Linked DNA regions of Homo sapiens: region 2 is linked to region 1. Evidence: fine-mapped expression QTL. A gene starts in region 1. The other region holds a variant in brackets. All regions are shown on one strand. Distances are from middle to middle. Region 1 holds the start of TXLNG (taxilin gamma). Region 2 overlaps TXLNG (taxilin gamma).

Region 1 (4,394 bases):
GTTCAAGACCAGCCTGGCCAACATGGTGAAACCCTGTTTCTACTAAAAATATAAAAATTAGCTGGGCGTGGTAGCACACATCTGTAATCCCAGCTACTCAGGAGGCTGAGGCACGAGAATCGCTGGAACCCACGAGGTGGAAGATGCAGTGAGCCAAGATTGCATCACTGCACTGCAGCCTGGGTAACAGAGCAAGACTCTGACTCAAAAAAAAAAAAAAAAAACACAACAAGTTTGTTTGTTTTTTTAAGAGACAGGGTCTCACTCTGCGGCCCAGGCTAGCCTCCTGCTTCAGTCTCCTGACTAGGTGGTACTACAGGTGCATGCCACCATAGCTGGCTTAAAAATGATTCTTGCAAACACAAGATAATTCACCCAATTTGTTAAATGAAAATTCAAAGATTAATATTTTACCATGTATTTGAATGCCGTCACTGTCAGTTAGAAATCAAAAAGAAAAAGATGCTCAGAAGAGCATAAGCAAAGAAGAATGGAGTATGAGGTACATAAACAAAAATGAGTAGACACACACATGACTATTCCTATCCAGCTGTTAACCAGAGCTCTGCACCTCAAAGGGTCATTACCTCCTATCTTGGTTATTTTAAATGCTAGTTGATTAAACCTCAGTTCCTAATTCAACGACTTTTTGTCCTTATCCCAGTGTCATAAAAGGGAACTTATATCCTCAATTGCAGTGGCTTTTTATCAGAGTCCTCCTCCCCTGGGGAACCTACGAAATCAAACACTGAGATTGGCACTCCACCCTTAGGGAATAAGTGAAGTGTCCAAAGTGATGGTGTTGAATCCCTTACAGGACATTGGTCCACAGCTTCTTTTTCAGTCCTGCAAGCACTGGATCTTTCTTTTAGAATACAAAGAGAGGGAGAGAAAGAAAGAGAGGTAATTGAGAAGTAGTAACACTGTCATGCAGAAACATGAAAATACCTGACCTTAGAAACAGGCCCCAAAAAGCTAATTCTTAACACTCTGCTCAGACGTAAACTGGACCTTTGTTCTCCCATTTGAAGTTTATGAATTGCATTAGAAAAATATTATTTCGTAATTTCATACAGGAGTTAAGAGTGTTCAAATACATAATTAAGTAATATTAAATAGCCCTCGGTGATCAAGCAAGATATCCAACAAGTCGAACGTTTCAGTATGTTCACCTGCAAGGAAAAAAAGAGATGGGGTTCCCACCTTCCCAGTCTCAGTCCCCGCAATTATCCATTCCAGGGCCCCGAAAACCCTGTACCCCGTTCGTTGTGCAATCTTTTTCAAACTCCACCCACTGAGCTCCAGAACAAGTGGAATTGTCCCGTTCTGAAAGAGGTCTCAATTTTCCTGTATCTAGGGAGGGACTGAAAACTCCTTGACGTGAGTCAAGTAAGGCAAGGGGAACAGTCCGGCCTGTTTCCCAGATTAAGAAAGACCCAAGGCCAGGGTCGGGAAGGCATTCAAGTTTCCACTCATCAAATTAAAAAAATAATAAATGAAAGAAAAAAAAGAGGGGAAAAAAGAGGAGGGTGGTAAATAGGACTGGGAGGACCAGCTATCATGCGATATCCCAACTCTGCAGGACCGAGGTCCTCCAGCATCGCCTCCCCATCCATCCCCGGCCCCACGTGCAGCCAAGCCCTCGGAGCCCCGGGGTCTAGGTCCCGGGGGCCGAGCGTCCCGCTCGCACCGGCCCTGCGACACTCACCCGCTCGCCTGCCCGCCCGCGCAGTGGCGGGGAGCGCAGGGGGGCGGGGGAAGGGGGGCCAAGCACACCCCGGCTCCCGCGCGGTTATCTTACTGCGCAACAGCCTAGCCTGAGCAGCCCGGGGGCACCCCGCAGCGCGCCCTGCGCACCTGCCCGACGCCAGGAGGGCGAGCCCACGACCCCAGCGAGCCCCCGGACGGCGGCGCTCAGCGCCGGGAGCACGGTGACGGCGGTGACTGGGAGAAGGAACGCCTGGCGCCCGGATCCCCGCGGTGCTGGCCGCACGTGGCTGTCACACCTGGCGCACCCCCGCCTCGCACCCCTTCTCCCTTAGAACCGCGTGCGCCCCCTGCCCTCCCTCCCGGCTTCCCCGCCGCGCGCCGCCAAACCCCAACCGTCGTCCCTTCCCACCCCATCCATCGCGGTCCCACCCCCCCCCACCTGCTCCCACTGTCGTCACCCCCGGGAGGGAAGAAGACCGGATGTTCGTCCCGTGGCTATAGGTAACCAGGGAGAGAGAAGAGGTGGACCCTGAAAAAGGGAGCCCAAACATCCCCCGGGCCCGACAACAACGAGGGCGTCCCCCTGACTGACCTTCTGCCGCGGGCTGCGTCGCCGTCCGCCCCGTCCGGCCTCAGTCGCCTCTTCGGCGCCGCCGCCTCTTCCCCGCGCTGCCTCCTCTACCCGCGTCGCCATGAGGTGACGGCAGCAGCCAAACAAGCGGCCCGACAAGGGGCACAGAATCTCGCAGGGCCTTTCGCCCCGCCCCCGAGCCCCCACGACCAATCGCCGCATGTGAGACTTCCCACGTGACCGGAGGAGGTTGGCCCCCGAGGGGACGGAGCGAGATGGGGATGGGGAGCATTGAATACTGGGCTGGGCTTCAGCAAGACCGAAGGGCAGATAGAGGCCGTGTGAGTCTGCGCGGATCGGGAATGGGACTCGGGAGTGGACTACAAGTCCCAGCAGGGCGTGCGGCCACAGCTCGCAGGCTCGGATCGGGATTGGGACATAAGGCGGCGTTCTGAAAAGGGGAGAGTGCTGCACCCAGTGTGCTTCGTGTGCATCCTAGTGGGACTTGCGGTTTCTGGGGGCGATGTCTGGCTATAGGAAGGTACTCGTTATGATCTTTCGCGGAAAGTTTAGAAATATCCCCGTGTTTGAGAAGGAGCACGATCGGCGACACATTCTTGTGTTTTTGTTTTTGTTGCCGTTCTTAGGAATTGGGCGCGAATGATTTGGGGATAAGGGAAAATACTTCACGACTTTCAAGACGGAAGGTGTATTGGCTCTTAGAATTTGAAGTTTCGTGCTCGGGCACCTGCCCCGAGCCCTGCCCCTCCACCAGAGTTGTTACCACGGTTTACTTGTCCCGAGCTCCCGCGGGATAGGTGCCGCATTCTATTCACCTTGGTTGAACCGCCCCGGCTTCTGCACACTTACTTGGCACTTCATTCATGTTGAATGTATCCTGCTTTCTCCCACCCCATTTACTCGTTTCATTACCTAAATTTTTTCAACAAACTCGGTTTGCTGAACCGAATTTTTTTTTTTATTGATATGATGTTGGGGGGGAGAGGGGAGATTTCCTCAGGAATATTCCCTATTTCCATCTGATGGAACCAGATCTCCAATGGCCGAGCTTCTGAAAGGCACAGACCATCATGAAATCCTGATATATTGTCTTAAATAATTCATTATGAGGCCGGGCGCGGTGGCTCACGCCTGTAATGCCAACACCTTGGGGGACCGAGGCGGGTGGATCACAAGGTCAGGAGTTCCAGACCAGCCTGGCCAACACAGTGAAACTCCGTCTCTACTAAAAATACAAAAATTAGCCGGGCATGGTGGTGGTGGTGGGCTTTTCTTTTTTCTTTGTTTTTGTTTTCCCAAGACGGAGTCTTGCTGTCACCCAAAGCTGGAGTGCAGTGGCACGATCTCAGCTCACTGCAACCTCCGCCTCCCAGGTTCAAGCAATTCTCCTGCCTCAGCCTCCCGAGTAGCTGGGATTGCAGGCACGTGCCACCACGCTGGGCTAATTTTTGTATTTTTAGTAGAGAGAGGGGTTTCACCATGTTGGCCAGGCTGGTCTTGAACTTCTGACCCCCTGATCTGCCCTCCTCGGCCTCCCAAAGTGCTGGGATTACAGGTGTGAGCAACCGCCCCCAGCCGGTGGTGGGCTTCTGTAATTCCAGCTATTTGGGATCTGAGACAGGAGAATCGCTTGAACCCGGGCAGCAGAGGTTGCAGTGAGCCAAGATCGTGCCATTGAACACTCCAGCCTGGGTGAGGAGAAACTCCATCACACACACACACACAAAAGTAAGTTATTCCTCAAAAAAAAATTTTTTTTTAGAGATGGGGCATTATGTTGCCCAGGCTGGTTTCAAATTTCATGATTTTCTATATTGTTTAAGTATGTATGGAATGAAAAAAATCAATAAAGTTATCTTTATTAAGGAAAGAGGCCGGCCACGGTGGCTCACGCCTGTAACCCCGGCACTTTGGGAGGCCGAGGCGGGCGGATCACCTGAGGTCAGAAGTTCAAGACCAGCCTGACCAACGTGGTGAAACCCGGTCTGTGCTAAAAATAGAATTAGCCAGGCGTGGTGACACGTGCCTGCAATCCCAGCTACTAGGGAGGCTGAGGCAGGAGAATCGCTTGAACCCGGGAGGCGGAGGTTGC
Region 2 (4,394 bases), 28 kb before region 1:
AGCTAATAAATGGTGCTAGAAATCAGGATAGCGGTTACCATTGGGGGTGGGGCCTCCTGGGGTGCTTGTAGTGTTCTATTTCTTGGTCTAGATGAGGTGACACATTCACTTTGTGAAAATTCATTAAGCCTAACATTTATGATTTGTATACTTTTCTCAATTTATGTATTTCAGTAAAGTTTATTTTAAAAGTTGCAATTTATACATTATTCAAGAAGTAAGAGGAACCAAAACAAATATTTTCCTCTAAGAAGAGAGATTAAAGATATGCTGCTTTTCATGACACTTTTAAAATAATGTGCATGTAATACTTTGACATCTTAAAAAAAATTAACACATTAAGGGGAAATGGGTTATCTATTTCAGAGTTATGGTTTGATGCCACACTCTAAGCCTAATTCAGATAGAAAAAACTTACAAATACTGAAACTCTTAAGTTATTTGAAAAGATTTTAAAAATTCACTTCCATATGTATCATATTCTATAGAGCAATGTTTCTCAAGCGTAACCCATAAAGTTTTTCAAAAATTCACAATGGCACGCATCGTGGGGCATGCTTGTAGTCCTAGCTATTTGGGGGCTAAGGCAAGTTTGAGGACAGCCTGGGCAATATAGTGAGACTTCGTCTCTTGGGGTGGGAGAGGATTCACAATCAAGTTTTAGGAAAAATCATTTGTAAGATTTCACTACTGTAGAAACTTCTTAAAATTGTTAATAGGCCGGGCAAGGTGGCTCATGCCTGTAATCCCAGCACTTTGGGAGGCTGAGGTGGGCAAATCACTTGAGGTCAGGAGTTCAAGACCAGCCTGGCCAACATGGTGAAACCCCGTCTCTACTAAAAATACAAAAATTAGCTGGGCAGAGGTTGTACTGAGCCGATATCGCGCCACTGCACTCCAGCCTGGGTGACAAAGCGAGACTCCATCTCAAAAAAAAAAGAAAAAAAAATCATTAATATACCCAAATAACATACTATAGCAGTATTATTATTAACAGAACAGATGCAAAGTGATAATTCAATGCTACATTTCACATGTAACTACTAGTTTCGCCTCTAATCAAATATTGAAATGTCATGTACTAATTGGGCGCATAGATATATAAAGAGACCCTTTACACAAAAGCAATAGAAAGGGAAAAAGTGAGTACTATCAATACCATTTTCCCCAATTAAAAAAAAAAAATTTCGGACAGGCGCAGTGGCTCACGCCTGTAATCCCAGCACTTTGGGAGACCGAGACGAGACGGGCAGATCACAAGGTTAGGAGTTCAAGACGAGCCTGACCAACGTGGTGAAACCCCACCTCTACTAAAAATACAAAAATTAGCCAGGCGTGGTGGAGCATGCCTGTAATCCCAGCTACTCGGGAGGCTGGGGCAGGAGAATCGCTTGAACCCGGGAAGCGGAGGTTGCAGTGAGCTGAGATCGCACCACTGTACTCCAGCCTGGGTGACAGAGCGAGACTCCGTCTCAAAAAAAATAATAATAGTTTCAAATCTATTCCCTGAAAACCATTAGGTATAAGAATGGCACTACAGGCCGGTCGCGGTGGCTCACGCCTGTAATCCCAGCACTTTGGGAGGCTGAGGCAGGCGGATCACCTGAGGTCAGGAGTTTGAGACCAGCCTGATCAACATGGTGAAGTCCCGTCTCTACTAAAAATACAAATTTAACTGGGCGTGGTGGTGCATTCCTGTAATCCCAGCTACTCGGGAGGCTGAGGCAGGAGAATTGCTTGAACCTGGGAGGCGGAGGTTGCCGTGAGCCTAGATCACGCCATTGCACTCCAGCCTGGGCGACAGAGCAAGACTCCATCTCAACAACAACAACAAAAACAAACAAACGAGAATAGAAGACTGCTTATCTCTAACACAGAATTTCTCAGACACTTAATGATAATAAAACCCACACAATCCCAGAAAATATGGTGTCAAGCCGTATCAAAAATACAGTGAGCATGAAATTCGTAGAAAAAAGGGGAAGCATAAATAATTTTCACCAAGAAAACCCTGAGGCCTGTCCTAACCCTGAGGCTACTTGAGGAATGAGATTGGTTCATTTGTAGTTTTTCAGTTCCATTAGCGATTTATTTTGTAACACCTTTATTGTGATATAATTCACATACCATACAATTCCCTAACTTAAAGTGTACAGTTCACTAATTTTACTGCATTCACAAAGTTGTGCAAACATTACCACAGTCAA[C/T]TTTGCAACACTTTCATAACCTGAAAATGAAACCCAGTTCTCCTTAGCTATCAACCCTTAATGCTTCTATAACCTTCAGCACCAGGCCACTAATCTAGTTGCTGCCTCTATGGATTTGGCTATTCTAGACACACTTCATATAAATGGAGCTATACAATATGTGGCCTTTTGAGTCTGCCTATTTTTTCTTTTGAGATGGAGTCTCACTCTGTCACCCAGGCTGGAGTGCAATGGCACGGTCTCCGCTCACTGCAACCTCCGCCTCCCGGGTTCAAGCGATTCTCCTGCCTCAGCCTCCCAAGTAGCTGGGATTACGGGCACCCGCAACCATGCCCGGCTAATTTTTTGTATTTTTAGTAGAGACAGGGTTTCACCATGTTGGCCAGGCTGGTCACGAACTCCTGACCTTAGGTGATCCACCTACCTTGGCCTCCCAAAGTGCTGGGTTTACAGGTGTGAACCACCACACCGGGCTGAGTCTGCCTATTTGCATGTGGCAAATTTTCAAGATTCCTCCATGTTATAGCATGTATCAGTATTCCATGCATGTAGCTGAATAATATCCCTTATACAGAGAGACTACATTGTATTTATCCATTCATCAGATGGACATGTGGGTTATTTCCAATTTTTGGCTACACTGTATTTATCCATTCATCAGATGGACATGTGGGTTATTTCCAATTTTTGGCTATTATGACTATTTCTTTTTATTTTTTTTGAGATGGAGTCTCGCTCTGTCGCCCAGGCTGGAGTGCAGTGGCGTGATCTTGGCTCACTGCAATCTCCATCTCCCGGGTTCACGCCATTCTCCTGCCTCAGCCTCCCGAGTAGCTGGGACTACAGGTGCCCGCCACCACGCCCAGCTAATTTTTTGTGTTTTTAGTAGAGACGGGGTTTCACCGTGTTAGCCAGGATGGTCTCGATCTCCTGACCTTATGATCCGACCACCTCGGCCTCCCAAAGTGCTGGGATTACAGGCGTGAGCCACGGCGCCCGGCCAATTATGACTATTTCTGCTATGAACATTAATGCATTCATTTTTGTGTGGACACTTCTCCAGGGTACAGTCCTAGGAGTGGAATTGCTATATGACCACTCTATGTTGAACCTTTTGAGGAACTGTAAGACTATTTTCCCAAGCAACTGTACTTTTTTTTTTTTTTTTTGGAGACGAGGTCTCGCTTTGTTGCCCAGACTGCACAATGCAAGCTTACTGCAGCCTCAACCTCCTGGGCTCAAAGCATCTTCTCGCCTCAGCCTCCCAAAGTGCTGAGATTACAGGTATGTGCCACTATGCCAGGCTCATTTTTTTTTTTTTAATTTTGTAGAGGGAGAGTCTCGCTATGTTGCCCAGGCTGGTCTCAAAACTTCTGGGCTCAAGCAATCCTCTTGCTTCAGTCTCCCAGGGCACTAGGATTACAGGCGTGAGCCACCACGCGCAGCTCACTGGTACCATTTAAAATTCCCACTAGAAGTGTATGGGGGTTCCAATTTCTCCACATCCTCAGCAACACTTGTTATTATTATTTTTTTATAGCCATCCTACTGAGTGTGATGGTACCTCACTGTGTTTTTGATTTGCATTTCCCTAATGACTAACAATATTGAACATCTTTTCACGTGCCTATTGGCCATTTGTATACCTTCTTTGAAGAATGTTTTTCAGATCTTTTGCCCATGTTTAATTGGGTTGTTATTTTATCGTTGGACTGTAAGAGTTCTTTATGTAACTAGCTACAAGTCCCTTACCAGATATATTTTTCAGATGACTTCATGGTTACCTCAACTTGGAAGAAAGGAATAGGACTGGCGCAGTAGCTCATACCTGTAATCCCAGCAGTTTGGGAGGTTGAGGTGGGCAGATCACCTGAGGTCAGGAGTTCGAGACTAGCCTGATCAACATGGAGAAACACCGCCTCTACTAAAAATACAAAATTAGCCAGGCGTGGTGATGCAAGCCTGTAATCCTAGCTACTAGGGAGGCTGAGGCAGGAGAATCACTAGAACCTGCGAGGCAGAGGTTGTGGTGAGCCGAGATCACACCATTGTACTCCAGCCTGGGCATAAGAGCGAAACTCCACCTCAAAAAAAAAAAAAAAAAAAAAAAAAAAAGGCTGGCCGCAGTGGCTCATGCCTGTAATCCCAGAACTTTGGGAGGCCAAGGCCAGTGGATCATGAGATCAG

The links. PIP is the estimated chance that this variant, and not a neighbour inherited with it, causes the effect.
Region 2: its variant is the best candidate, but not a certain one, in a credible set for the expression of TXLNG in whole blood (TOPMed, PIP 0.72).

The regions. Positions count from the first base shown.
Region 1 is chrX:16,784,498-16,788,891 of GRCh38, reverse strand. TXLNG (taxilin gamma) reads right to left here and starts at 2,426. Exons shown (of 10, transcript NM_018360.3): 1 at 2,303-2,426. The coding sequence starts at 2,404. It overlaps LOC124905250 (a long non-coding RNA gene), which reads left to right and starts at 2,626. Exons shown (of 2, transcript XR_007068398.1): 1 at 2,626-2,822; 2 at 2,929-3,232. RefSeq lists enhancers at 1-84, 2,127-2,859, 2,831-3,030 and a silencer at 1,641-2,080.
Region 2 is chrX:16,812,620-16,817,013 of GRCh38, reverse strand. All of the region lies in intron 1 of TXLNG (taxilin gamma), which reads right to left. Among named protein-coding and RNA genes, the nearest start is that of TXLNG, 28 kb to the right of the region's middle. The variant C/T (reference allele first, on the strand shown) is at 2,208.